7 linked regions of the Homo sapiens genome follow. The protein of the gene in region 2 interacts with the protein of the main gene of each other region in a biochemical or structural test. Each region holds a gene or a part of one and is shown on either strand. Other genes may lie near its edges. The genes, in order: SNTG2, SLC34A1, TJP1, DLG2, DLG5, LIN7A and FRMPD3.

The links.
Region 1: the proteins of SLC34A1 (region 2) and SNTG2 interact in a test that uses a peptide from one of them, tested with the Homo sapiens proteins (one large-scale study listed by IntAct).
Region 3: the proteins of SLC34A1 (region 2) and TJP1 interact in a test that uses a peptide from one of them, tested with the Homo sapiens proteins (one large-scale study listed by IntAct).
Region 4: the proteins of SLC34A1 (region 2) and DLG2 interact in a test that uses a peptide from one of them, tested with the Homo sapiens proteins (one large-scale study listed by IntAct).
Region 5: the proteins of SLC34A1 (region 2) and DLG5 interact in a test that uses a peptide from one of them, tested with the Homo sapiens proteins (one large-scale study listed by IntAct).
Region 6: the proteins of SLC34A1 (region 2) and LIN7A interact in a test that uses a peptide from one of them, tested with the Homo sapiens proteins (one large-scale study listed by IntAct).
Region 7: the proteins of SLC34A1 (region 2) and FRMPD3 interact in a test that uses a peptide from one of them, tested with the Homo sapiens proteins (one large-scale study listed by IntAct).

The regions. Positions count from the first base shown.
Region 1 is NC_000002.12:1,359,496-1,363,492, reverse strand, and holds part of SNTG2 (gamma-2-syntrophin), read right to left. Parts: intron 1-3,997. UniProt on the Homo sapiens protein: Adapter protein that binds to and probably organizes the subcellular localization of a variety of proteins. May link various receptors to the actin cytoskeleton and the dystrophin glycoprotein complex.
Region 2 is NC_000005.10:177,382,829-177,387,306, forward strand, and holds the start of SLC34A1 (sodium-dependent phosphate transport protein 2A), read left to right. Parts: upstream 1-1,605; 5' UTR 1,606-1,659; intron 1,660-2,866; 5' UTR 2,867-2,913; coding exon 2,914-3,022; intron 3,023-3,158; coding exon 3,159-3,308; intron 3,309-3,392; coding exon 3,393-3,521; intron 3,522-3,594; coding exon 3,595-3,738; intron 3,739-4,478.
Region 3 is NC_000015.10:29,710,745-29,714,741, forward strand, and holds part of TJP1 (tight junction protein 1), read right to left. Parts: intron 1,667-3,997; coding exon of another isoform or gene 1,616-1,666; intron 257-1,615; coding exon 87-256; intron 1-86. UniProt on the Homo sapiens protein: TJP1, TJP2, and TJP3 are closely related scaffolding proteins that link tight junction (TJ) transmembrane proteins such as claudins, junctional adhesion molecules, and occludin to the actin cytoskeleton.
Region 4 is NC_000011.10:83,471,728-83,475,724, forward strand, and holds part of DLG2 (disks large homolog 2), read right to left. Parts: intron 1,051-3,997; coding exon 1,000-1,050; intron 1-999. UniProt on the Homo sapiens protein: Required for perception of chronic pain through NMDA receptor signaling. Regulates surface expression of NMDA receptors in dorsal horn neurons of the spinal cord.
Region 5 is NC_000010.11:77,804,665-77,808,661, forward strand, and holds part of DLG5 (disks large homolog 5), read right to left. Parts: intron 3,281-3,997; coding exon 3,132-3,280; intron 2,265-3,131; coding exon 2,094-2,264; intron 1,508-2,093; coding exon of another isoform or gene 1,432-1,507; exon of another isoform or gene 1,235-1,431; intron 1,198-1,234; coding exon 1,001-1,197; intron 1-1,000. UniProt on the Homo sapiens protein: Acts as a regulator of the Hippo signaling pathway.
Region 6 is NC_000012.12:80,808,781-80,812,777, reverse strand, and holds part of LIN7A (protein lin-7 homolog A), read left to right. Parts: intron 1-1,094; coding exon 1,095-1,313; intron 1,314-3,997. UniProt on the Homo sapiens protein: Plays a role in establishing and maintaining the asymmetric distribution of channels and receptors at the plasma membrane of polarized cells.
Region 7 is NC_000023.11:107,557,285-107,561,281, reverse strand, and holds part of FRMPD3 (FERM and PDZ domain-containing protein 3), read right to left. Parts: intron 1,026-3,997; coding exon 889-1,025; intron 556-888; coding exon 429-555; intron 1-428.

The sequences.
Region 1 (3,997 bases), on a different chromosome or scaffold from region 2:
AATATGTTGGGTTAGGGAGTGTCAGCCTAATACAATGACAGAGAGAGGCTCTCCCAAAGTTTATTTGGGACTATGTAGGCAATTGCAAGCTGGGACATATGTGCTATAAGAGATTATAGGGATATCCAAAGAGGCTGGGATTCAGGAAAGCTTAAAGGCAAAGTGAGGAGGTTACAGAAGTTGTTTTGAAACCGTTATCCTTGGCTACAAGGATCAATAGCAAGGGGAGCTTGTGTCCTCATAGAAGACTTGTCTTTGCACAAGGTTGCAGTGGTCTTTGTGCAGCTTGTGGTGTTGCCAGGGTCTTTTGTGGTACTTCTTGTTATCAGGTAAATATTCATGGTTCCTCTTTCATGGGGGGGGTCCATTTTGTGAGGGTTTCACAGGAGTCATTCCATCTCAGCGCCGGTCACTTTCATGGAAGTTCTATGGAAATGCTCAGCATCGGTGACTTTCATGGAAGTTCTACTGAAATGCTCAGCGTTGGTGACTTCCATGGAAATTCTACTGAAATGCTCAGTGTCAGTCATTTTCGTGGAAGTTCTACTGAAATGCTCAGCATCGGTGACCTTCGTGGAAGTTCTACTGAAATGCTCAGCGTTGGTGACTTTCATGGAAGTTCTACTGAAATGCTCAGCATTGGTAACTTCCATGGAAGTTCTACTGAAATGCTCAGCATCGGTGACTTTCACGGAAGTTCTATTGAAATGCTCAGCGTCGGTGACCTTCGTGGAAGTTCTATTGAAATGCTCAGCGTCGGTGACTTTCACGGAAGTTCTACTGAAATGCTCAGCGTCGGTGACCTTCACGGAAGTTCTACTGAAATGCTCAGCGTTGGTGACTTTCATGGAAGTTCTACTGAAATGCTCAGTGTCGGTGACCTTCATGGAAGCTCTACTGAAATGCTCAGTGTCGGTGACCTTCATGGAAGTTCTATTGAAATGCTCAGCATTGGTGACTTTCACGGAAGTTCTACTGAAATGCTCAGCGTCGGTGACCTTCGTGGAAGTTCTACTGAAATGCTCAGCATCGGTGACCTTCATGGAAGTTCTACTGAAATGCTCAGCGTTAGTGACCTTTGTGGAAGTTCTACTGAAATGCTCAGCGTTGGTGACCTTCACAGAAGTTCTATTGAAATGCTCAGCGTCGGTGACTTTCACGGAAGTTCTACTGAAATGCTCAGTGTCGGTGACCTTCATGGAAGTTCTATTGAAATGCTTAGCGTCGGTGACTTTCACGGAAGTTCTACTGAAACACTCAGTGTTGGTGACCTTCGTGGAAGTTCTACTGAAATGCTCAGCATCGGTGTATCTCATGGAAGTTCTACTGAAATGCTCAGGGTCGGTGACCTTCGTGGAAGTTCTACTGAAATGCTCAGCATCAGTGACTTTCATGGAAGTTCTACTGAAATGCTCAGCCTCAGTGACTCTCATGGAAGTTCTACTGAAATGCTCAGCATCAATGACTTTCATGGAAGTTCTACTGAAATGCTCAGCATCAGTGACTTTCATGGAAGTTCTACTGAAATGCTCAGCGTTGGTGACCTTCATGGAAGTTCTACTGAAATGCTCAGCGTTGGTGACCTTCATGGAAGTTCTACTGAAATGCTCAGCGTTGGTGACTTTCATGGAAGTTCTACTGAAATGCTCAGCATCCGTGACTTTCATGGAAGTTCTACTGAAATGCTCAGCATCGGTGACCTTCATGGAAGTTCTACTGAAATGCTCAGCATCGGTGACCTTCATGGAAGTTCTACTGAAATGCTCAGCATCGGTGACCTTCACAGAAGTTCTACTGAAATGCTCAGCGTCGGTGACTTTCATGGAAGTTCTACTGAAATGCTCAGCATCGGTGACCTTCGTGGAAGTTCTACTGAAATGCTCAGCGTCGGTGACTTTCATGGAAGTTTTACTGAAATGTGATGGTATCAACACAGCAGCATTTCCCAAAATGTGTTTGATATTAAAAAGTTATATTTTTTAAACACTCTTTGTTTGCATAGATTTGGAGAAAAGTAGATTGAAGAAGGCGGGATACTTTTGCTATTGTGGAACTTCTCAGCCACCTCACTGTGTTAATTGCACTGTCTGTCTCCAATAATGATTTGCCATGCTGTGGTTTTCAAAATTCTGTGAGTTTTTTTTTTTAAATGGGTCAACTTGATGACCATTTATTAAATTCCATGAGAATTTCGTGCTACACACTCAATGGGACAAATCATTGTAATGTAAATTTTCTTATTGTTGGTGGAGAATGATGTAATCATAATGTCACAGGCTGTAACAAATAAAAGATGTTTACATGTTTATTTAAAGCTTCACGTTGGCCCCCACAGATGGGACAATGGAATCTGAATCCAGTGGCTGAAGCACAGAAGGCAAAGCTAGAAAAAGCACTGAGGCTTGGACCAAAGGCCCCAAGGACGCAGTTTACTGCTCAGGGCTGTGTCTGAGCTGACTGAGTTGATGGATGCTAGTGGAATGGAAGAGACAGCGCTGGGGACTGCATCAGCTTTGAATATTCCATAAGGTCAGAGCCTGTGGGTGGGATCTCCAAAAGAACTCTCTTAAGTAAGACAAAAAACCACTGGGACACGCAGGTGACTGGAATCGTTATGCAGAATCAGGCTCCAATGGTAGGCCAAGCAGACACTGCTCTCTTATTTAGAGACTCCATCTCTACAAATATTGAAAGAAAAATCACTCATCCCCTTCCTGAGTGAAGGGTTTGCTCATCTGTGTATGATGCTGGATGTAGGGGGGTGAAATCAGACACCGTATGTTTGCTGCTTCTGTCTGAGTGAGAAGGAAAGAAAATCCCCTAGGGACAGACTTTTTTTTTGTTTGTTTGTGTTTTTAAGAAAAGGAAATTAAAAACACTAGAGTAGCCTCTTTTAGTCACACAAATATAAGGGAAATAGAAAAGGCAAGGAGCTTCCCCTCACTTGTTGTGGCAGGTGCCAGTGCACAAAGAGTCCAATAACCTTCTGGAAATAAAAATATCTTGATCCTTTTGAACTTCCACCCTATACCTTCCTTCTAAGCTGTGCTGCTGGAAGGAACACACCCCAGAGAGAGCTCTCCTGAACAGGCTGGGCTGGTGATCCAGGCTTCATACAAGATCCTCCACTCTGAGGGCAGAGAGGGAGGCATGCTTCCAAAGCTGCGGTGGCTGGAGCTTTCTGGCACAGGTGAGCTCAGAGCACAAGGGCAAAGCCTCCAGATGCTGGGAAAGCCAAGAAAACAGACTGTCCCCCAGAGGCTGCAGGAGAAAGCAGCCAACACCTTGATTTTAGCCCTAAGAGACAAGTTCTTAGAGAACTGTAAGAGGATAAATGTGTGTCTCTAATCTACTATATTTGTGTTAATTTGTTAAGCATCGATAGAAAATGAATACAGATAACTTCTTTCAATCATTTAATGTACTTTTTTTTTTCCTATGGGAAAAATGGGATAGAATTTGTTCAGTGCCCTTAAATGTAAAGAAATGAAGATAAATAACCATTTTTGGTTGAATAAATTGAGCTTTAGTTTCTTTGTTTGCTTGTTTTTGGTAATATTGTTAAATGGAAAGAAGATATGGACAAAGTAAAATGTTTCTCAATATTACTACAGAAAGGCAGCATTCTAATGAAAGAGAAAAAACATGCAAAGAAATAAAATAAAGATTAGTTTATGGAAGCACATAACCAAAAATGGCAGTGGGTTTATTGGTGGACTAGAACCTAAATAGAAATTCGCAATTTAAGGATATTGATGTTGTGTAAAAGCAGTCATCTTTCCCAGCATGTAAAAAGCCATCATATGTGCTGATAAATAATATTATTTTTGAGTCTCAGCTTCTCTATCCACAGAAATTAGAGTGGTGAAATAGACAACAACAAAAACATTGAGACCTAACTATATGTTGTGTACAAGAGACTCACTTTAGATTTCAAGACACACATAGGCCAAAAGTGAAGAGATGGAATAAAATATCTCATGCAAACAAAAGGGCA
Region 2 (4,478 bases):
CAAAACAGCTCCTCCTGCTGGGTTCCTTTCTCAACGCGAGACACCCCCAACCAGGCAGGCTCTCAGCCCAGAAAAGGTCTGGGGAGGCCATGGCCAGAGCCCAGGTGCACAGACAAGGTGGGACTCACCACCCAGGGGGACACACAGACTCTGTCACTGGCCAGGGAGGAGGCAGGCAGTAGGCAGGGAGGTGCTGAAATGGCAGAGAGGCTGGCAAGAGATACGTTGGTGCTGGAATGGAGCTGCCTTCTCTGCTGCTTGTATGAGTCCCAACAGCAGCTCTGGTCAGATCCAGCATTTTCTCACTTTCACTAGGGCTGTAGCCCCAAAATAAATCTTTAGAAGTGGTGGCTGTGTAAATCAGCAGCATTTTGGAATTATATCTCTTGATGGATTTGATCGATAGCTAACTGCCTCCCCCACTAAACCCAGAGCTCCGTGACAGCAGGGAAGGCAAACTTCAAAAATATCAAAAAGCACAACCTTATTAAAAAGGAGAAACACCCCCAGTTCACCAGGAGCACCTTGGATTCAGCTGCTCCTGCCAAGGGTCTGAACTGCACGGGGGAATGGAGAGAAACAGGTCACGTGGGCCGGGGTCTCTGGGCCCGCTGTGGGGGTGTCAGTTTGCTCATAGGTGGAGACACTCGATGTGACATTAACAGCACCTTCAAGCCCAAGGACCCAGAGATTCTGACACAAGAACTGAGAACTGATTGCATTTCCGTGACTCAGCGACACCCTCCTACCTGGGCATGAACCCAGCCCTAGCCAAAGATCCAGAGACCCGACTCCCATCTATTTCCTTTTCCTCTCTCCCTCCCCGTCACCAATTCTACTGGTCAGATGTCCCTGGGATGCACCTGTCCTCCCCAGCCCCTCCGTTCCCATCGGAGTTCAGGCCTCATCATCTCCTGCCTGGACCATTAGCCTCTTAACTGGCCCCTCCGCTTCCAGGCTCCCTTCCATATATCCGGGTTCCACCCCGGGGGCCATTCTAAAAGGCAGATCAGGCCCATCCCAGTCTGGCCAGCGGCTCCACATTCACTCAGACTCACATCCTGGACCCATGGTCGGGCATTAGAGACCTGCCACGATTCAACATTCCACGGCCTTTCCAGCTTAGGTCCTCATCTCACACTCCCTCTCCTCTGAGCTCCCCCTGGGAGACTTACAGACACCCCGACGCTTGGCAAGGCCATAGGATGTTTTTGTTTGGTTTGGTTTGGTTTTTCTGAGACAGTCTCACTCTGTCACCCAGGCTGGAGTGCAGTGGCACGATCTTGGCTCACTGCAACCTCCGAAGGCCATAGGATGTTTGGGTCATTCCCTGGGGAGTCCTGTCAGGCCAGGAACGAGGGGACCCTGGGAACAAGGTGCTGAGTGGCATCAGGGTCTCTGCCTGCAGGCGGGGGATGTGTCTGGGTCGTGGTTGATGGGAAGAACCTGACCATAGATTCCCCATGCAGAGCTGACGATTAGCAATTAACTGGGAGGAATCTCAGGGGTGAGGTTAATTGGGGGACAGAGGGAGGGCAGCTAGGGTTCCAGGGACTTTGCCCTTGACCCAAGAGTATAAAGAGGAGGGTCTCAGTTCTCCTCAGGGTCCTGGAGGCTTCATTGAGCTGCTGAGCAGAAGCTGAAACACAGAATTCTAAGGTGAGCCCAGGACCCTCACATCCCAACCCCACCCCCAGCTCTGAGTAGGAAACAGCCCAGCACCCCAGCCCCTTCATCTGTGTCCTATCTGCGCCCACCCCCACCGCGCCCCATATAACATGTCAGTCCAGCCAATCGCGGTGGCTCCCACCTGTAATCCCAGCACTTTGGGAAGCCGAGTGGGCGGATCACCTGAGGTCGAGTTTGCACTAAAAATACAAAAAATTAGCCAGGTGTGGTGGCAGGCACCTGTAATCCCAGCTACTTGGGAGGCTGAGGCAGGAGAATCGCTTGAACCCACGAGGCAGAGGTTGCAGTGAGCCAAGATTGTGCCACTGCACTCCAGCCTGGGCGGTAAGAGTGAAACTCCATCTCAAAAAAAAAAAAAAAAAGGACTCCTGCTCCTTCAGGACTTGAATTCAACTCTTCACACCCCTACAACAGCCAAGGACGCTGGGACAATGCGGGGAGTGCTGAGGCAGATCAGGGCACTCCACCCCAATAGCCAAGACTCCTGGGGCAGTGCGGGGACAAGGGGGGGCTGAGGCAAGCCTGTCAGTGTTTGTTCATTGCCCCTTGAGGGGGTGGATGGGGAAAGGAATTCATTGTGAGGGGAACCCAGGAACTCGGGATCCGGCCCAGGGGATCTCCGTGTGTGCCCAGCTGACCCCATGAGAAGGCAGGTGTCTGCAGCTCCTCCTTGCTCTCCAGGTGGGCAAAACTGAAGCCCGGCCCAGCCCCAGCCCACACCTGCAGCCACTGCCAACACCACGTATTCCCTGGCCCCCTCCAGCCCCAAACAGGCTGGGCGTCCTCAGTTCTCAGTGTCTTTTATCAATGCTATATCCAAGCCTCTGGTTCGGAGCCTGGGCTAGAGCTCAATAATACTCATTGAATGAGTGAATGGTGAATGAATGATCACCTCACCACCACCACACACACCCCTCCGAGACTCACATGCAGGTGCCCAGCACAGATGTGCACATGTGAGTCTGCATGTGAGTCTCGGAGGGCTGTGGTGGTGATGATGGAGGGTGTGGTTTGCTGGGTGTGTGTTTGTGCGTGTGAGTCTCGGAGGGGTGTGTGTGTGTGGTGAGGATGGAGGGTGTGCTTTGCTAGGTGTGTATTTGGAATCATGCGCCATGGGGGTTTGTGCAGGTGAGGGTGTGTGGGCATGAGTGTCCCGGACACAGCTATTGTCATTCAGCGTTGCTGAGACCCACTGACCTGCAGACCTCATAGTGGGTGCCCAGGATGTTGTCCTACGGAGAGAGGCTGGGGTCCCCTGCTGTCTCCCCACTCCCAGTCCGTGGGGGGCATGTGATGCGAGGGACGGCCTTTGCCTACGTGCCCAGCCCTCAGGGTAAGTGCTGCTCCCACACCCTGGACCCTGGTTGCCCACGGTTGCCCACATCCCGGATGAGGCCACTTCCCCCGCCTGTTCCTCCCCGCCTCCCCACTTTGGGGCCCTGGGGCTCCTGACCAGGCTCCCTCCCTAGTCCTACACAGGATCCCGGGGACCTCTGCCTATGCCTTCCCCAGCCTGGGCCCTGTGGCCCTTGCTGAGCACACCTGCCCCTGTGGGGAGGTCCTGGAGCGCCATGAACCACTGCCTGCCAAGCTGGCCCTGGAGGAGGAGCAGAAGCCAGGTGGGCCTGGGCTGGGGGTGGCAGAGGCGGCAGCAGTCCCTGCCCTGGCCTCTGCCCACTATGCTCATGGCTTCCCCCATCCAGAGTCCAGGCTGGTCCCCAAGCTGCGCCAGGCTGGCGCCATGCTGCTCAAGGTGCCACTGATGCTCACCTTCCTCTACCTCTTCGTCTGCTCCCTGGACATGCTCAGCTCGGCCTTCCAGCTGGCTGGAGGTAGGGCCCGGGTGGAGGAGACCTGGGAGGGGTTCCTGAAGGGCCTTGGACAACGCTGGCTCATGCTCCCCAGGGAAGGTGGCTGGTGACATCTTCAAGGATAACGCCATCCTGTCCAACCCGGTGGCCGGGCTGGTGGTGGGGATCCTGGTGACCGTGCTGGTGCAGAGCTCCAGCACCTCCACATCCATCATCGTCAGCATGGTCTCCTCTGGCTGTGAGTTGGCCCACCAGGGTGGGGAAGAGCTTGGAGGGGCACCCCAGGAGCTGGGAAGGGTGGCAAATGGGGAGCGTGACCCCAGTAAGGCTGGCCTCCATTCAGCTTGACTCCTGTATCAGCCAGGGACATGAGAGGAGCCCAACTGTAGCTGTATGTGACCCAGATGATTTATGGCAAGGAACTGGCTTCCCCGATGGTAGTTTGTCTGGGCAAGTCAGGAATCCGTAGGCCAGGGCATTGGAAGGGCAGGCGGGAACTCTCAGGTGGGCGCCGACACTGCAGTCCAGACAGGGCAGCGTTTCTCCTTTCTCAGGGAAGCCTCAGTTCTGCTTGAGGCCTTTCATTCTATTGGATTAGGCTGACCCAGGTTACCAAGGATAATCTCCTTTTCTTAAAGTCAGCTGACTGTAGACGTGAATTGCATCTACAAAACACCTTACAGAACACCCAGGCTAGTGTTGGGTTGAATAACTGGGTACCACAGCCTAGCTAAGTTGACACATAAAACTAACCATCACTGGCCGGGCGCAGTGGCTCATGCCTGTAATCCCAGCACTTTGGGAGGCTGAGGGGGGCAGATCACGAGGTCAGTAGATCGAGACCACCCTGGCTAACACGGTGAAACCCTGTCTCTACTAAAAATACAAAAAAAAAAAACAACAAAAACCAAAAAGCATTAGCCAGGCGTGGTGGCAGGTGTCTGCAGTCCCAGCTACTCAGGAGGCTGAGGCAGGAGA
Region 3 (3,997 bases), on a different chromosome or scaffold from region 2:
ATGTAAAAACCATTTTGCCTAGAAACCACCAGAATTTTACTTCATAAGCATTACTGTGTTAAAATGTCTACTTCCGAACTTCCTACCTTCACCATGTGCTCCCTTAGAATGTATGTGGAGAGACGCGCTGGTGACAGGCTGAGATGGCTGGGCATACTGCGAGGGCAATGGAGGAGGAGGGGGAGTGGCCTGGATGGGTTCATAGCGTTTCTCGCCAAATGATCTATCCACACCATCAGCTTCAGGAGGCTTTCCCCTGTTAACAAATGAAGAAAATGCCAACACCTGAAAATGGACTCACATTTACAAAACAAGTTCTCATTTCTCCATGTATCTCTAAGTTAAAAAAAAAAACTAGAAATTTCACAATTTATTCTCATGAGTATGGGTAGCTACTCTACCAAAATATAAAAACAGATTCGACCATTCATCGGCACAAGAAATGTCCAGACACACAAAAACTTTAAGAATATTAGTAAAACATCCAGAAGATGGCAACCAAAGGCAGGTGAAATTTTGGGTATAGTTTAATTGTTATTTACAAAAGATAGTAATGTTGACAGATTTAAGAAAGTCTTGCAAATATTCTGAAAACATATCATGGCACAAATTTTCCTGAGACCCACTTTTTTTGTTTTTGAGACAGGGTCTCATTCTGTCGCCCAGACTGGAGTGCAGTGGCGCGATCTCAGTTTACCACAACCTCTGCCTCCCAGGCTCAAGTGATTCTTCTGCCTCAGCCTCCCGAGTAGCTGGGATTACAGATGCCAGCCACCACGCCTGGCTAATTTTTGTACTTTTAGTAGAGATGGCGTTTCACCACGTTGTCCAGGCTGGTCTTGAACTCCTGACCTCAAGTGAGCCGCCTGCCTCTGCTTCTTAAAAGTGCTGGGATTACAGGCATGAGCCACCGCACCCGGCCCTAGACCCACTTCTGATTTTGTATCTGGCATCTGGCATACTCGGAGCACCATAAAAACAGATGTCACAGACTAGGGGTTGGCAAACTTTTTCACTGAAACACCAGAGAGTAAATGTTTGTGGTCTTTTGGCCCATACAGTCTTTGTTAGAACTATTCAAATTATGCGGTTATAGCCTTGAAGCAGCCACAGACAATGGGCATATCTGCGTTTCAGTAAAACTAAAAAAACTGGAGCTTTTACTTTAAAATTTCCCCTTGAGTTACCAGGTCCATTTTTTGGTTAAATGACTGCTAGAGCAGCAGATCCTGCTTTATTTTACAAGGTTCATTTAAGTCAAATTGTGCCATGTATGTTTATTTTTTCAGATTGCCAATTGTTAATATGTAACACAAAATTCACACAAATCTTTTTAAAAGACCCATAATTGCAACATTGCCATCTAAACCTTACTGCTGAATGCCAAAGCTGCACTAGCTTTATGTGCACCAACAATAACATATACATTTGGAATACTCCTGGTCATTTTCATAAATTTTCATTGAAGAAGTCTTATGATTGGCTTTTTTATCTTGCTTTCATGAATTTAGACTAAGCCCTTGATGATGACATTAAAATCTGAAAGTGCACATAATGCCAGTGACACAGTGAGGGACACCTTATGGAACAGCCTCACATTAATTGCCAGTCTTACCACTTGACGTTCCTTTTCAAGTAGTCATAGCTAGTGTAAGAGCCAAGAAATCTAGGTGATGGCAAAGCAAGCGCAATAGAAAAATGAAAGAAAATGGTCAATCTAACTAAGTAAATTTGCAGCAAATGGAACTCAAATGTCATTTAAAAATATCAACCAACATCCACCATTTCACCATAATTTGGTCTATAAAGGAACATATCACTAACTCTCATTTGGCCAAGGAAATTGAAGATAAATAAAACACAATCACTTAGTTATGTCCCGTCTGCTGGCCCATCCTTCATGTACTTTAACTGTTACTGCAGTGAAAAGCAATGTGTTTGAACTTTGCTCCTTCTCCACCTCTGTTGCAGCTGCTAATAGTGAGCAAAGAAATTTATCAAATCAAAGAGTGGTGATCAAGGATAATTAGCAGGTTCTGAATAAGTGGGAGTGACATGTCCCATTAAAAAAAAAAAAAAAAAGGCTGGGCAAAGAAATTCTGCAAGTGAAGACACAGGAAAAAGTAACACAACAGAAGAGCTACATTGAGCCCCTGGGAGGGGAATGGTAAATGGAGAGATAGAAATATGCCTGGCTTGAAACCTGGCCAGGCTTCACATGTTCCTTTCTAGCAAGACCTCCTCCATCTCCAATCGTAAGCTGGGCCCTGTGGTGGTGGAGTCTTACTGGTGAAGCTGCATGCTTGATGCTCAGGCTCTCTCTCATCTAATGATGTCTCACAAACACAAAAACAACTGAACATCAGTCTCTCACATTTAGTTCTTTAAAAGCTACAAACCACCATCATTTATTGAGACCTGGAAGTCTCACATAGTGAGTTGAGTCCTGAAAGGTAGATTTGATAACAAAAAATCCCTGGTTGTCCTGAAGAAGTTGACTCAATCTCTGGACTGAGACATGTGCACAGCCCTGGAGGGACACTGCTCTTCTTGCACTGTTTTAGAATCCTGGAAACTTCTAATTTACTTTGGAGGTGAATGTCTAAGCTACTGTCTCCTAACCTTTCCAGTTCTAATCCAGCTCTATGGAACTGTTAGACTGGGTAATATCTGCTTGCTTCCTGGGGCATCTGTCCTGTGCTAACAAAGATTATTTTCCATATCTAATTCTCACCATTTCTGAGGTGTGTTTTTAAGTGAAGCATAAGCACACATCATCTGAAGGAAGAAAATTTTGCTACTCCTGTATTTACTGAAAGAAAGAAATGCCTGAAGGCAGTCTTATTTAGTGACAAACAGTAAATGGTTTTGAAATGCAGGACAGAATCCTATATTTTAAGCTATTTTCCAGTTGATGAAGTTGTACTCATTGGACAAGAGTATGAAAAAGCATTACAAGGGAAACTTACAGAAACAACTACCCTCTTAGTTATCTTCCATGACCCTTATTCTCCTTTCCATTTCTCTAACCATTAAATACCTATATGGGAAAATGCAGCACAATTATAAAGAGTTTCAATTTCACACTACAAAGGAAAAAAAAGTATACTGGTATCCAGCCCAAACTATACTTTTCTCTCTCACAGCAGCAGGGAGTAAAATCAAACTGAGTTCTGAGTAAATTCACAAAGACAGATGTCATCTGTTTCACAATATATCCCTGTGAAAACAATGACCAGGTAATACAGGTTCCTTCCAGAGCTGTGTTAATGAAAAGAAGGGTGGTGGATGCACCTAGTATACCATGCCCTGTTTTGAGCTTCATTCACTCAACAATTACTGAGCCCCTACTGCATGCAAGGCAATGTTCTACACCCTAAAGTTATACATCACAAATAAGCTAAGTCTTCTTTCTAGAAAAACAAATTAACACAGAAAGCAAACATGCATTTTGATTGATTCCCTGGCAAAACAACTTACTTTTTAGACCTAAATATACTCCTTTTTTTTTTTGAGATGAGTCTGGCTCTGTCGCCCAGACTGGAGTGCAGTGGCGCGATCTCGGCTCATTGCAAGCTCCGCCTCCCGGGTTCATGCCATTCTCCTGCCTCAGCCTCCAGAGTAGCTGGGACTACAGGCACCTGCCACCATGCCCAGGTAATTTTTTGTATTTTTAGTAGAGACAGGGTTTCACCATATTAGCCAGGATGGTCTCGATCTCCTGACCTCATGATCCACCCACCTCGGCCTCCCAAAGTGCTGGGAGTACAGGCGTGAGCCACTGCGCCCAGCCTTTTTTTTTTTTTTTTTTTTTGAGACAGAGTCTCACTCTGTTGCCCAAGCTGGAGTCCAGTGGCACGATCTCGGCTCACTGCAAGCTCTGTCTCCCGGGTTCACGCCATTCTCCTGCCTCAGTCTCCCGAGTAGCTGGGACTATAGGAGCCCGCCACCACGCCCCGCTGATTTTTTTGTATTTTTAGTAGAGATGGGGTTTCAT
Region 4 (3,997 bases), on a different chromosome or scaffold from region 2:
CTGCAGAATGGGAAAGGAAGATGTAGGTAAAGAGAAAGAGTTGGAAACAACTGCAAAACTGTCCTGCAAGGGTGATTCTTAATTGCCAGACAGTAAGAGATGCTAAGGGCATTACTTCACTGGATAAATTACTCATACAGCCTTGCATAGGGAAATTGATGTTTAACACTCAGGAGATTGGCAGTGCCTACTTTCTGGAATCTACTAGCAGGGAAAGGCAATTGCAGTATCTGTTGATGAAAAGAAACATTTGGAGGAGTTTTGCTTACTCTCTGGCTCTGCCTACATAATGTCAAAACAACTGAATTTAGTCAACTGAGTGGGAGAAAAAAGAATCCAAACCAGCTGTTTGGCTATTGTTTAGATATGACTATAAAAAGTAATTGTTAGTAGTAATAACATCTTATGTTTTCATGATTTCTTTTCCCCAGATCAAAATACTCTCTATACTTTGCTACAGTTTCTAGATTTCCTTGTATCTGGGATTAGAAGGAACCTGAGAGTTCATTGGGTACAAGTCCCCATCTGATGCTTGAATTCTCTCTGCAGTATCCTTGTCAGTAGCAATTAGCCTCTGTATAAATGCCTCCAGGAAAAAGCAGCAGCTTACAGATAGCCTACATCTTAGGCAGATCTGCTAGAAAGTCATTCTCAATACTGAGCTGACATCAGTCTCTCAGGAGAATTTATTCACCAGTCTCGTAGCTAGTGCTCTTTAGGTAATTTGAATGTGTTCCTTCCCATTGAGGACCACTCATCTGGAGGGCTGCATCCTTCTCTTAGGTGCTATTAGTGCCCATACTCAGCAGGAAGTTGTCTGTTTGGTGATAGGGTCAAAGAGAGAGAAAGTGAGAGACAGCGTAAGAGTAAGGTACGGTCTCAAGACAACAGAGCATTAAGCCGAGTTTATTCTCCTTAGTCCTTCACTCTTTCCCTCCTTCAATGATGTCACCTCTTATGGCCCAGAAATTAGGAATGAAAGCGTGCTGGGAAACTTACTTTCCTGCCTTGTAACAGGCTCATAGGAAAGAATGAGGTCTTCTTGTCCTCCTGAGAAGAGAAGGAAAGAAAACCACAGTGAACTAACAGTCATATATTACAGAGACAAGCCCTGCTCTGAAACACAGGAAACAGACACAGCTCAGAGTTAATTCTCCTTGCTCTTTCTCCTTGAACCATTCAAAAATAACTTCATCCTCATAAAACTCTTTAGCACCATTTTAGTATCAGATTTTCACAGTCATAACTCTAAGTAATAACTGGTTGCTAGCTATTTGCTGCAGGGCAATGACCTGTGAGACTTCTTTCTGTCTGGCATTGAGAATGGAATGCCATGGCCTCTACACCAAGCATTACTACTTAAAAGGAAGCCATTTAGTTCAAGGAAAGGGTCCAATTCAATAGATGGCTGCTACATAATCAGAATTGCTGTACCTTTTATTTCATCTTCTATTTTATTTCCCCAAGAAGCACACTGTTCAAAAGCAAGTATATGCTTATTTCATTTATGATATAAAAACTTCATCAGGACACTCAGGGTTTTACTCTAATATTAATTCGTCAGGAAAATGCTGTGGGTCAATTAATGAAGATCAAAAATTGAGGTGTGTCCTACATCATTGGTTATAATTGCTGCTAAACTGTGCGTTGAAACTTCAGATAGAGAACTAAGGAAGACACAGTAGTAAAATGTCAGCCCCTCCAATGTCATCTGCTACAAGCCTTCTGACTCAGGGTGGACCTCAAGTCAACAAATAACCATAGAAAGTAAATTGGTTTTTGCCATTTATTTTTTCAATCATCTATTTTATATAATTGATGAATTAATTGGTCAGAGGATTAGCTCAATTTCACCTGCAAACCCGGAAGTGTCTGCATTTTTTTTTGCATTGACTAACCTTTGGAACAGCAATAGGTTAGGGCTGTTGAAAAGAACTTTCTGTCTACTAGAAGAAATAGTGGAGCAGAAGTGGAATATGAGGTAACTTCTGAAACCAAAGGGCAATTCACCTTTGCTGTATATCCTCACCACCCACCCCTGAAGCACATTCATAGTCTATCAATGCCAGGTTTTCCTCCTTCAACAGCCACAGCACCACAGAAAGAGAGGTAATTTCATAAGAAGAGTTAATATGATCGACTGTTTTGATAATGAGACTGATTTGGGGAAATTGAGCAATATGTGGGTATAGCTGCGAAGTTGGATGACTTCCTTGGAGGCTGGGTAGCTGGAATGGGATGGGGATAGGAGTGTCTTACTTTTTCAAGTGTGAGAAATGGCCTCAGGCTGAAGTCATATCTTATCTCAGTCCCAAGGAGGGCCTGGGCTCAGAATGGCGCCACCATGCCAAGCTACTTCTTAAGGGTACAGAGAGTGGACCTTGATGCTCCTCCTAAGTGGTATGTACCCATGGCCACCCCAGAAGTGTTCAGGGGACTCTGCCACATTGGTCAGGGGTTTGGTCAGTGAGGAGTCAGATTCACTATTTCTTGTACTCAGGAAAAGAATGATTCCCTTTGAATAAACTACTGAAATGTACAGAGCCTAGGCCAAAAAACATGAAGGTGATTGATTACTAACCCCCAGTTATCTAAAGCCTGAGCGATGTAGAGGGTATACGCATTCAAGGTTTTAGTTTAGTATTACTTCATCAGGAAAATGCTGTGGGTCAATTAAAGAAGTGTAAAAATTCTTGGGGAGAAAGTATAGTTTTAATGATAGAAGCATCGTAGACTAACATTGCAATTTTAGACTATAACTTTACAGGGGAAATCTTCAACAATTAATGTGCAAGGGAAGAATTCTGACCATGGGATAACAAAAGCTTTAAATGTCAGGTAACTCTTGGACCTCCTTATTAGGCTGGGAGTTTCATAAAGGCGAGAACTGAGTTTTATTCATCACCATGTCTCCAGTGCCCCATTGAGTGCTTAACATAAAGAAAGATGTCAACAAATTTGCATTCTGATTTCAGTCATGGGAAACAGGATGAGTGATGAGGCCAACGGTAGGTTCTATTTTGTGTTTCTGTCAATATGGTCATTTAACTTTGGAAAGCATCGTTTTCTCTAAATAAATAGAGCACATCAAGTTCCCATAAAAATCTCTTCCCAATGGCTTTGCAAATCATTCTGATGGAACGTTCTAAAGGCAAATCTTTAATAAGATATTTGATGTCAGTGTGTATGATTGCGATTCAGACAACTAGGGCAAAGCATAGCTTTGATTAATTTTGTTCAAGAGTTCTCTATCTCTGTCTATCCATCACTTCTTGGTTTACTTTTCTATGAAAGGCACTGGTTCTGGTTCTGGTTCAGAGCAGTAGTGTTGGTAGACAGCAATGGCAGCATCCCTTATGTCCGGGCCACCCCAATTCTCAAGACCTTGTGGCAATCAGGTACTGTGTAATACCCAGGAAGCCTGTGGGGAAACCCGTGGAGGTGGGCATGACATAATTGCTGTGAATTCAGCATCTTAAACTAATTTTTACTTCCATGTCCAAGAATGAAAAGCCCTATGGGTAATGAGGAAGAGACAAAGGGAAAGAGAAAAAGCCACTGTGATGAAGGAGAGAAAATTCATGTCTTTGTGGCACTTTGCGGGCCTTGAGGGGCTTTCATACCCACTGGCTTTTATGTCTCACAGGCATTGCTTGAGGTAGGTACTCTGATGATCCCCATTTTACAGATGAAGAAGCTGAGGCTCAGAGATGTTAATGAGCCCTGATTCCTCAGCTAGTAAGTAGTGGAGTCAAGATTTAATACTGCACCTTTTTCAACTCTTGTGGAGTATATTGCACTGTCTTGAAACAGTGAGAGAAGCAGAATTCTCTGTGGGGCAGGGTGGGTGGGTGTTGAGGTAAAGCTAACAAATGAAGAAAAAATTGAAGAGAGAGATAGGGGCTGAAACCAGGTCGGGGTTATTAAGAGGCCATCAGATACTCTGCCTCTAAACACAAGTTCTCTCTCTTTTCTTTTCTCTCTTCTTTTTTTCTTT
Region 5 (3,997 bases), on a different chromosome or scaffold from region 2:
CTGTCTACCAGGGGATGTCTGACATCTCCTATCACTCAACTCCAGCCCTGGACTAGCATCTTGCTCCATAAGGATTATACAAGACTTGTTCATGAACACAGGACTGAGGCCAGAAATGCCGAAGTTCTGCAGAAACCGACAGCTCTTGGTCACTACCAAGCAGCCTGTAAGAACCTAAAAACAAATGGCAAGCAAGGCACTCAGCAGAGATTGCTTCTTGCCTACCCAATAGCTATCCCTCCATTCTTCCTCAGTAACTGAACCTCTTACTGAGGCCAGCAATGCACCCAGCTAAAACATGCCTTTTCTTTTTAATTATTTTTTGAGACAGGATCTTGCTCTGTCACCCAGGCTGGAGTACGGTGGCGTGATCTTGGCTCACTGCACCTCCGCCTCCTGGGTTCAAGGGATTCTCCTGCCTCAGCCTCCCAAGTAGCTGGGATTACAGGTGCATGCCACCACACCTGGCTAATTTTTGTATTTTTAATAGAGACAGGGTTTCACCATGTTGGCCAGGCTGGTCTTGAACTCCTGACCTCAGGTGATCCACCCACCTCAGCCTCCCAAAGTGCTGGGATTAAACGTGTGAGCCACTGTGCCTGGCCAAAACATGCCTTTTTGACCTCTCTTGCACATGCAAGTGGACAATGAGATGCAAGTTGAAGTCACAGGTTAGGGCTTCCAGATAGCTGCTGAAAGAGGCACGCTCAGCTGAGGCACACTTCTGCCTTACCACTCCTTCCTTCCTCCTGCTGCCTGAAACAGGGACATGATGGCTGCAGCTGCATTGACAGGCGGTGACTGGGAGGATGGAAGCCACACCCCATAGATGTGGCTCTGAAGATGGCAGCACCCCCCGACCAAGCCGAACACACACCTTCAGACTTGCGCACAAAAGCAAAGTAAGACTCTCTTTTGTTTAAGTCCCTGTTGTGGAGCTCCTGGATCCACAGCAAGCCCCATCTGGAGAGCCCACTGGAAAATGAGCTCAGCCACTTGCCTTCAAAGAGTGGAATGGAGTCACTGGAAAAGGCATCCAAGGCGAGCAGGTCTTTCCCGTCCTTGGACCCGCTGCGTTTGTGCTTGTGTTTCCTCCGAAAAAAGGACCGGCGTGCAGCCGCTGACAGCGTCTTTGTGGCGCTATTGTCATCTTTGACTTCAGACATGCTGAGCCTCCTGGAGAATTCTTGGTCCATCCTGTGGCACAGGGGACAATGCTGGGCAGGGCCATCGAGACCCTGCTGCCCTGCCCTTCCTGCCCTTCCTGGTGAGAAAAGCAAAGGTGGGCCAGACACTGGGCTCCCCCCACACTCCTTGGCAGGTCTCAAGGCTACATCTCCTCCCACGCCCCTGGGAACCCTCGGTACATGCTGCGGGGGTGACACAAACACCAGCACCAGGGCAAGCTCTCAGAGCAGGCGATTTTTTCTACTACAGCATATTCAGCTCGGTGTCAAAAGGAACTGCTAGGACAGCCTTCAATTGGTGACATGACGAGTTACGCTTCCTGCCATAGAAGGGAAATGATGCAGGGATGCAGGCTGCCTCGAAAACATGCTCAGTGACAGGAGCCAGATGAAAGGCCACACTATGCAATCCCAACCACACAGAAGTCCAGACAGGGAGACCCATGGGTATCAAAAGTAAAGTAGTGGCTGCCTAGGGCTGAGGGCTGGGTGGGAGGACAGTGGGATAAGGGGCTGACAGCTAATGGGTCTGGGGTTTGTTTGAGGTGATGGAAATGCTCTAAAATTAACTGTAGTGGCGGCTGCACACACCTATCAATATGTTGAAAACCACTGAATGGTACACTTTGAGGGAGCGGCAAGGCACGAGTATCTCCATAAATCCATTTTTCTAAAACACGTTATGCCTTCTGACCCATCACTGTGCTCTATACAGCACTGACTCACACTAGGAGCAGCTTTTTAGACCAGCACTTTTGGCAAAATGTAGAGAGCAGAAGCTAAGATAAGAAGCAGAATCCCTCCTCCAGCAGCCCTGGCCCCAGCCCCCTCCCATGGGACAGCTCCATGGCTGGTGGCCCTCGGCGACCCCTGCCCCACCCCACCCCAGGCCCGGAGAACACTTACACATATTTGCTGGGAATCTGCCCGCGCTGGATCTTCTGGGCATTCTCGTCCAGCTGCCAAGCCATCCAGGACCCGAACGTGCCCTGGGGTAAGGTGTCATCCACGTAGAGGATGTCGTCCTTCTTAAAGCTCAACTCTTGCTCCACATCTGCCAGCCGGTCGTACAGGGCCCTGGACCACAGCACAGAAGGAACACGATCAGGCGGCTCTGGCCACCAAGGACGAACCAGGTGCCTTCTGTGGCCAGGCCCCTAAGGCTGCCATTCTGCTTTGGGCTGTCTCCAAACTTGATCAGGAATCGCCGAGGGTGGTGATTCTCAAAGTGGGGAGCCCTGTGTTTTACATAAAGGGGCAAAGACTGCCTTTGCTCCCCTAACACTGAGGGCGCATCCCCATCAAAGAACTCACCAAGATCTGAGGCCATAACTTCCCTTTCCAGGTGGCCTTTCCCAGTTGCCTCCCTCCTCGAAGCCCAGGCCCGGCCCCTGGTTCCTACAGACTGGAATCTCTCTAGGATGGAAATATGTCATCTTCTACCCTAGAGACAGGGAGTTGTACCGCATCAGTGTTCTCATGCTTTCTGTGATCTTGGATCTTAGGAAATGTGAAGAAAGCTCTGAGCTCCTCCTAGAAAGCCTGCTGCCATCCCTAAATGCCCACAGCATTTCATACAGTAGTAAGGGCACTGAAGATGCCTGGAAGTCCACACACACTGCAGAGGGATCTGCAAACCTGGCTTGGGGGACACCAGAAAAAGAGGAGCACAGCACACAGGAAAACGGGGCTTGACTGCCTCCAAATTCTCTAGGTCTTAAGCCCTAAAGAGGGGGCCCAGCTGGTTCTTTAAGCCCTAAAGGGTTGTTCTAAGTCACAATCATCTCAACATAAATAAGCGTGCAGATTGAGTGTCAAGGAATGATGATCATGGCCCCAGCCTTGGGGGGCAAGAAACAGAGAGCCATTCACCAGGAAAAGAGTCTCCAGTGAAAGCCTCTCCTCTGGTTCCAAATCTCCCACCGATTCCCCAGCCACTGGTACCTGATGTAGAAGCTGTCACCAGGCAGGCCCTTGGCCTTCGTGAACTCCTCAGGGCGGTACTGCACCTTCAGGCGGACGCCATCCCTGGGCTTCAGCATCTCCACATAGACTTCCTCCACTGTCTTGTTCCGCACGTCCAGGCTGCCATACTGCCAGGGATGGGGGTGGATGCATCAGAAGGCAGAAGCCAGGGGGCAGCTTGGGCACCCGAGAGGGGCCAGTGCTGACCATACGGCAGAAATTCAACATCCCTCCTTAACTGAGACTCTGGCTACCTCCCCTCTGCAGGAAGGACTGAGTCTTCATGGTCTCCCCAGTCTCCAGGTCCTGTGCATGCTCCCTGGACACCAGGTCCTCTGCCAAGTGGCTGCCCTGCCCTTGACAGCTTATCCAGGAAAAACCCTGTTCTGGTGACTGGCAAGTCTGGGCTTTTCAGAATAGGGACCTTCCTCTTGCTGATGTTGCCTGTGCTTTTATTTATTTATTTTCTGAAACAGGGTCTCCCTCTGTCACACAGACTGAGTGCAGTGGTGCAATCACAGCTCACAGTAGCCTATACCTCTTAGGCTCAAGTGATCCTCCCACCTCAGCCTCCAGAATAGCTGGGACAACAGGCACACTCCACCACACCTGGCTAATTTTTTTGTTTTGTTTTCTGTAAAGACAGGGTCTCACTATGTTGCCCAGGCCGGTCTTGAACTCTTGGGCTCAACTAATTCTCCCACCTTGGCCTCCTAAAATTCACAGGTGTGAGCCACCAAACCCAGCCCAACTTGTGCCTTTATATTCTCACAAACCATCTCCCCCATGAGGCAGGAGACCACAGAGAAAGACCATCCTCTCTCATCAGAACAGAGTCCTGCAGC
Region 6 (3,997 bases), on a different chromosome or scaffold from region 2:
GGAGTTCAAGACCAGCCTGGCCAACATAGTGAAACGCCATCTCTACTAAAAATATAAAATTAGCCGGGCGTGGTGTTGCACACCTTTAATCCCAGCTACTCGAGAGGCTGAGGCAGGAGAATCTCTTGAACCCAGGAGGCGGAGGTGGTGGTGAGCCCAGATCAGGCCACTGCACACCAGCCTGGCCAACAAGAGTGAAACTCTGTCTCAAAAAAACAAAAAAGGGCAAATAAACCAGAAAAAAAACCCTTTTGCACTAAGTATATGACAGTCACATACTGAAACTGTTTTTCTGGTTTGCCTTTTTTTTTTTTTTTTTTTTTTTTTACAGTGTTTGAGACATAGAAACTTACACTGTGCACATCTGATTTCGTGGTTATTTTTCCTGTGGCATTTTAAATTAAGAATTCCTTTTCTATTGAAAAATGATTAATGTTCACCTTTCTTTTATTTTAGTTACTTTATGTTTTTATGTTACATTTAAATTTTAATTAATCTGTTATATTTAGCATAGTGTATGAGATTGAGTCTCCATTATTTTGTATTATTTAATTTAGTTAATAGTCCTTTTCTCCTTTGGTCTAAAGTCCACATTAATAATAAATAAAGCTTTCCATGTGATGACTCTCCTTCTGGACTCTGTGCTATGTTCTACTATCTCTTTTATACACACAATAAGACACCACTTTAATCATTGTAGATTCTTAATAAATTTTAATATCTGATACAGAAATTTTCTCTTTGTTACTATGTTTTAATTTTTTTCAAAATTTTGTTGACTAGTGCATTTACTCTTCCAGATAAAATTTGGAAATTTCATTCCTAATGTTAGCATTATAATTTAGGTCTTCATTGCTTTTCACCCTTATGACCTGAATCCCCACACAGTCCATTCTGTGACCTAGTGCAGCCTAACCTGCTTATAGTTTAACCACAATGTAATAAATAATAACGATGATGGTAAGATAACTCATTTGCCATGTTTTCTTAAAATTTTAAATTTTGGGTTCTTAATGTGATATTAATTTCAGATTTGTCTCCAGGGAAAAGAACATTGAACCTCCTCCCTTTAAGAAGTGTCATTGTATTTTCAGAGTGTGGAAGGAGAACACCATGAGAAAGCTGTGGAACTACTCAAGGCTGCTAAAGACAGCGTCAAGCTGGTGGTGCGATACACCCCAAAAGTTCTGGAAGAAATGGAGGCTCGCTTTGAAAAGCTACGAACAGCCAGGCGTCGGCAGCAGCAGCAATTGCTAATTCAGCAGCAGCAACAGCAGCAGCAGCAACAAACACAACAAAACCACATGTCATAGGTGAGAAGTGACTTATTCTATACAAGGAGTATATATATATATATACACACACACATATATGTATATATGAATATACTTAAAATATATTTTAGATATGTTCTAAAATATATTTTCTTAGCTGAAACAAAATCATTAGATTTAAATAATCCAAACAAAATCAATCAAACAAAAGACAGTGATCTAAAAGTATATAAGCAAGATAGTTTATGTGCCATTCAGCTATATTCTCCACAAATATAAGATAATTTGGAAAATGATATACTTTGAAAGGGGCAAGTACAGGCTCTAGGATGCTTTTATACAAATTAAGAAAATGCAGCCTCTGTGCAAACCCAGATCCTAAGGAGAAGAGTGTGGGCTGGATTCCAGGCCTCACTCACCCTGTTGGCCAGTTGCCTTTACACAGTGTATTAACTGCACAACCTTATAGTGCTGACCCTGGAAAGATCTCCTTTAGAATACTGAGATACAATTTATTGGAAAAGTGCCCCACTGAAAAGAATGAAGCTGAGACCTGCCACTGTCTATGCTGTAAGAGATTCTGAAGTTCTCTGCGGATGCTCCTTTAAAGTGTGTCTAACATACAAATGGCCAACAGCTATATGAAAAAATGCTCAACATCTCTAATCATCAGAGAAATGCAAATTAAAACCACAATGAGATATCACCTCATACCTTTTAATTTGGCTATTATCAAAAAGAGGAAAGATAACAAGTGCTAGTGAGGATGTGAAGAAAAGGGAACCCTTGTACACCGTTGGTGGGAATATAAATTGCTACAGCCAATTTGACAGACAATATGGAGGTTCCTCAAAAAAGTTCATAGAATTCCATATGATCCAGCAATTCTGCTTCTGGGGAGATATTCAAAGGAATTGAAATCAATATGTCAAAGAGATGTTTACACTCCCATGTTCAATACAGCATTATTACAACAGCTAAGATATGAAAACAACTGAAGTGCTATCAAGGGATGAATACATTTTTTAAATGTGGTAAGTATGTGATAGATATCTATATCTACCTACACACACACACACACACACACACACACACACACACACACACACAGATGTATACCATTTAATATTTAGCCTTTAAAAAGCAGGAAATGTCATTTTTGTCAGCGTGGATGGGCCTAGAGAACATCATGCTAAGTGAAATAAGCCAAGCATGGGCAGACAAATACCACATGATCTCACCTATGTGTGGAATCTGAAAAACTTTAATTCATAGAAGTAGAGAGTAGAATGTGGTTTCCAGAGGCTGGGAGGCTGGGGGAGGAGGGTAGACAGAGAAAAGGGAAAAGGTCTTAGCTAAAGGTTACAAGTTTCAGTTAGGTAGAAGGGGAATAAGTTAAGATGATCTATTATACAACTTGGTAACTATAGTTAATAATACTACATTGCATATTTCAAAATAGCTGAGAGAATGGACTGTAAATATTCTCACCACAAAGAAACAATAAGTATTTGTGGTAACAACTTTGGTAGCCTGATTTGATCATTCCACAATGTATACATGCATTGAAATATCGCATTATAATCCATAAATATATAAAATTATTACTTGTCAATGAAAAATAAAACTTTAAGAGTTTTGAAAAAGTTGTAAAGTAGAAATAAAATGTGTCTAAGATTCTCCTGCCTTTTTCTAAATTCCACTTTGTAACAAAGAACACTAAATCAGGTTTTGCTGTATATTATCAAGAGAATTGAAGAAAAAATGTTAAGAGACCCCATCTTAGAAGTTCCTACTATGCCCTATGCCCTTATCACATTTTATCCCTAATCCTCAGAAAAAAACCTTCAAGGCAAGTATCAATAAATAGTTTTTTAGATGAAAATATGAAGCTAAAATAGCTTCAGTGGATTTCCCATGACTGCATTTACAGAAACATAGAATTCTTTTCCTTTTTACTCCATCAGGTTTTCATCTGCCAACATCAGATATTCTGGAGTTATATAAATTTTCCTTGCTATCCTTTGGAGAAGACAGTTCATATTGTTAGATACCTTTACACTATGATGTCTGTGAATGTGTATTTGAAGTGAACTTCAAATATTCTTGGAAAAATGATTGTGGGTAATAGTGGTTTTAGGTCATTCAACATCAGATTACTATTTGCACAAACAGAAATATTGGATATAACATGAGGCTTTTAATTGTTTGTGACACTTGTGAAAAGAAGAAGCTACAGGCTGGGAGCAGTGTCTCATGCTTGTAATCCCAGCACTTTGGGAAGCCGAGGTGGGTGGATGACGAGGTCAGGAGTTTGAGACCAGCCTGACCAACATCGTCAAATCCCATCTCTATTAAAATTCAAAAATTAGCTCCTGTAGCCCCAGCTACTTGGGAGGCTGAGGCAGGAGAATTGCTTGAACCCAGGAGATGGAGATTGCAGTAAGCCGAGATCGAGCCATTGCACTCAAGCCTGAGCAACAAGAGTGAAACTCTGTCTCAAAAAAACCACAAAAAAAAAAAAATGAAAAGAAGAAGCTACACAGAAAAGGGGGGAAAAGATAGGGATTTGTCCTACAACAATCCTGGGAATTCAACAATCTATCTATCTTTCATAGGCTGCTATTTTTATTATATGTACCATATTTTAGTATCTTTATCTAAAATTGCATTCTATCCTAAAAAATACATTTATTGGGAGCCAAGCGTGGTGGCTCACGCCT
Region 7 (3,997 bases), on a different chromosome or scaffold from region 2:
AGTGATCTTCCTGCTTTGGCCTCCCAAAGCGCTGGGATTACAGGCATGAGCCACCACACCAGCCTAGTCATTTCCATGGAAAACATGTGCCTCCCTAGGGTCCAGTGCTTTCCACATGATACATGCTCAGTCGGCACTGACTAATTGGTGAAAAGGACCTGAGAATTATCTCCTGCATCTTGGCCCCTTTGCTTTGAGGACCCTGAGCTCTCTCAGTGATGTGTCACTCAGCTGTCTCTTTGGGATGCTCAGGCTTGGGGAAGACTCCTCTCCACAACTGCCCCACACCTGGCCAAGCCGTATGTGCACCTGAGTCAAAAGCAGTGGTGAGGATCCCTAGAGGACCAGACTCTGCTGGGAAACCACCCAGGATCTCCCTGTGGCCAGTAGTGCCTGGAGCACCATGCCCAGTGGTCTACTCTGGATACCTTGGTGCCGCAGGAAGGATGTGTTTGGTGAGCCTTCAGTTGCTGAGAGAGAGATTTCCGGAGGTTCTTCTCTTTGATGACCTGCAGGAGGGAGGGGGGAAGAAAGGGTTCCAGGCCCCACTCCTTCCTAAAAGCAGAAGAAAAGTAAGAGATTAGTGAGAGAGGCAAAGTGGGACAGAGAGAAGATGGTAAGACAGAAATTGACTGAATCTGAGAGGTAGAGATGGAGGAATAGAGACTGGGAGAAAGAAAAAGGGACAGGGATAGGAAAATAACATTAGCCACAGCTCCCTAGTAGAAGCTGTAGCTCTAGGGCTTCATAGTCTAGATATGAGGGACTCCAATTCTCACTCCCATCCCATGTCCTACATTTCTGAAAAGCATAGCATAGCTCAACCAGTGTACCTTTTCCCTACGCAACTATTCGCCCCCCATCCCAACGGGCCGCAGCACAACTCACTCCACATTCTTGAGCGAGATCTTCTGACTAGGTCGAGTGGCTGAGACAGTGATATAGATGTGGAGCGCAGCAAGGCCCAAAAGCATCTCTGGCTTGGGATCCATTCCAAAGCGTTCTCGAATAACATCATTCCGACTCTGTGAGAGAGGGCAGTCCAAACCTATCAGCTGAAGGAGACATTCCTTCCCCACCCCCTGATCTACTCCCTTACATCCCAGACAATACTCATAGTATCAGTAAGGCATGCTAGATCAAGGGACAGAGGAAGGAGCTCCCCTTGGAGAAGAGACAACAGAGGAGGCTCAGGTCTCATAGACACTGTTCACTTTATTCAGCAGATACTAGATAGCCTTCTCAGTGACAGGGGCACACAATGGCAAGGTACAAGCAGACAGTCCAGTTCACTGCAAAAGTGAGACATGGCACCACTCCCTTTCTTTCCTCCTTTTATAAGAGACTTTCCTACTTTTTTTCATGGGGGTTATACTCACCCCCAAGCCATACAAGGCTCCTTTACTAGCTCAGATGGAAACAAGGGGAGAAAGATACTGGGAGGGACTCTCCACAGGGCCCTGGCCCAGAAGCCCAGGGTGAGAGCTGAATTGCAGGGATGGGGGAGGCATTCTTCTTCTTGGTGTCTGAAGGACAAAAATGTTGATGAGTCAATCTTCCCTATGCTATCCTAGAGGAGGTCTCCAGGAACTACTGGCCAAGGGTATGACAACCCCCAAACCCTGAGGGTCACAGCCCCAGCTATCAATGAGTCAGCCTTGGTTAGACCAGTTTCCCATTTTGTTAAAGTGGAACCAGTATGGACTAAGGGACTAGGAAGCCACAGTGATATCACTATAATATAGGAGAGAGTGGAAAAGGAATACATCATCAATGATCATCTATGTAGAAAATTCAGTGGATTCTATTACAAAAAACTACTACAACTACAGTTTTCCCTTGGTATCCATGGAGGATTTCTTCCAGGACCCCCATGGATACTGAAATTTGTGGATGCTTAAGTCCTTTATATAAAATGCTGTGGTATTTGCATGTAACCTATGCAAATCCTCCTGTATACCTCTATCACCTCTAGATTACTTATAATGCCTAATACAATTAAAATGCTATATAAGGCCAGGTGCAATGGCTCATGCCTGTAATCACAGCACTTTGGGAGGCGGAGACTGGTGGATTACCTGAGATCAGGAGTTCAAGACCAGCCTGGACAACATGGTGAAACCCCGTCTCTACTAAAAATACAAAAATTAGCTGGGCATGGTGGCGGGCGCCTGTAATCCCAGCTACTTGAGAGGCTGAGGCAGGAGAATCACTTGAACTCAGGAGGTGGAGGTTCCAATGAGCCGAGAGCGAAACTCCATCTCAAAAAAAAAAAAAAATTGCTATAGTGCTATGTAGGCCAGATGCTGTGGCTCATGCCTAAAGTCACAGCACTTTGGGAGGTTGAGGCAGGTGAATCACTTGAGGTCAGGAGTTTGAGACCAGCCTGGCCAACATGGTGAAACCCTGTCTCTATTAAGAAATACAAAAATTAGCTGGGCGTGGTGGTGCATGTCTATAGTCCCAGCTACTTGGGAAGCTGAGGCAGGAGAATTGTTTGAACCTGGGAGGTGGAGGTTGCAGTGAGCCGAGATCATGGCACTGCACTCTAGCCTGGGTGACAGAGCGAGACTCTGTCTCAAACTAAACTAAAATAAAAATGCTATGCAAATAGTTATTATATTATATTTTTAAATTTTGTATTTTTTATTATTGCACTGTTATTTTTTATTGTTTTTGAATATTTTCAAAATCCACAAATATGGAACCTGTAGATATGAAGGGCCAAATGTAGTGAGTTTACCAAGGTTTCAGGATATAAGATCAATACACAAAAATCAATTGTATTTCTATTCTTTTAAAAATAAATCTTTTTGTATAGAGATGGGGGTCTCACTATGTTGCCCAGGCTGGTCTTGAACTCCTGAGCTCAAGTGATCTTCCTGCTTCAGTCTCCCAAAGTGCTGCAATTACAGACGTGAGCCAACATGCCCAACCCCAACTCTATTTGTATATGCTAGCAAGAAATAATTGAAAATTGGAATTAAAATCAAAATCATTTACAATAGCATCAAAAAATATGAAATAATTAGGGACAAATCTGACAAAACATATGAAAGACCTATATACTGAAAACTACAAAATACTGCTGAGGAAAATTATAGAAGGTATAATTAAATGTAGAAATACTGTGTTCAGGGATTGGAAGGCTCAATATTGTTAGGATGTCAATTGTCCCCAAATTGATCTATAGTTTCAACACAATCCTAATCCAAATCACAGCAGGTTTTGGTAGAAATTATCATGGTGATTCTAAAATTCACATGAAAATGCAAAGGACCTATAATAGCCAAACCAACTTTGAAAAAGAACAAAGTTGGAGAACAAATACTTCCTGATTTCAAGAATTATTATAAAGCTCCAGTAATCAAGAGTGTGATGTTGACATAACGACAGACAAGTAGACCAACAGATCAGAATAGAGAGTACAGGAATAGATCTATATATATATATATATATATATATATATATATATATATATATAGACAACAGATTTTTAACAAAAGTACAAAGGCAATTCAGTGGAGGAAGGATACTCTTCTCAACAAAAGGTGCTATAACAATTGGATATCCATATGCAAAAAAAAACACACACACACACACACACACACACACACGAAACTTTGATGGATACCTTGCACCACATACAAAAGTTAATTCAAATGGATCATAGGCCTAAATATAAAACTGTAAATGATAAAACATCTAGAAAAAAATAGGGGAAAATTCTTGTAACCTTGGGTTAGACAAAGATTTTTTAGATATGACACCAAAAGCACTGTCCATAAAAGAACAAATTAGCAAACTGGACTTCATCAAAATTCACACATTTGCTCTGTGAAAGACGTTGTTTAGAGACTGAAAAGGAAAGCTACACACTGGAAGAAAATATTTGCAAATAATATATCTAACAAACAGCTTGTATCCAGAGTATATAAAGAACTCTCAAAACTCAATAAGAAAACAACCCAATAAAAAAGCAGGCAAAGATCTAAAT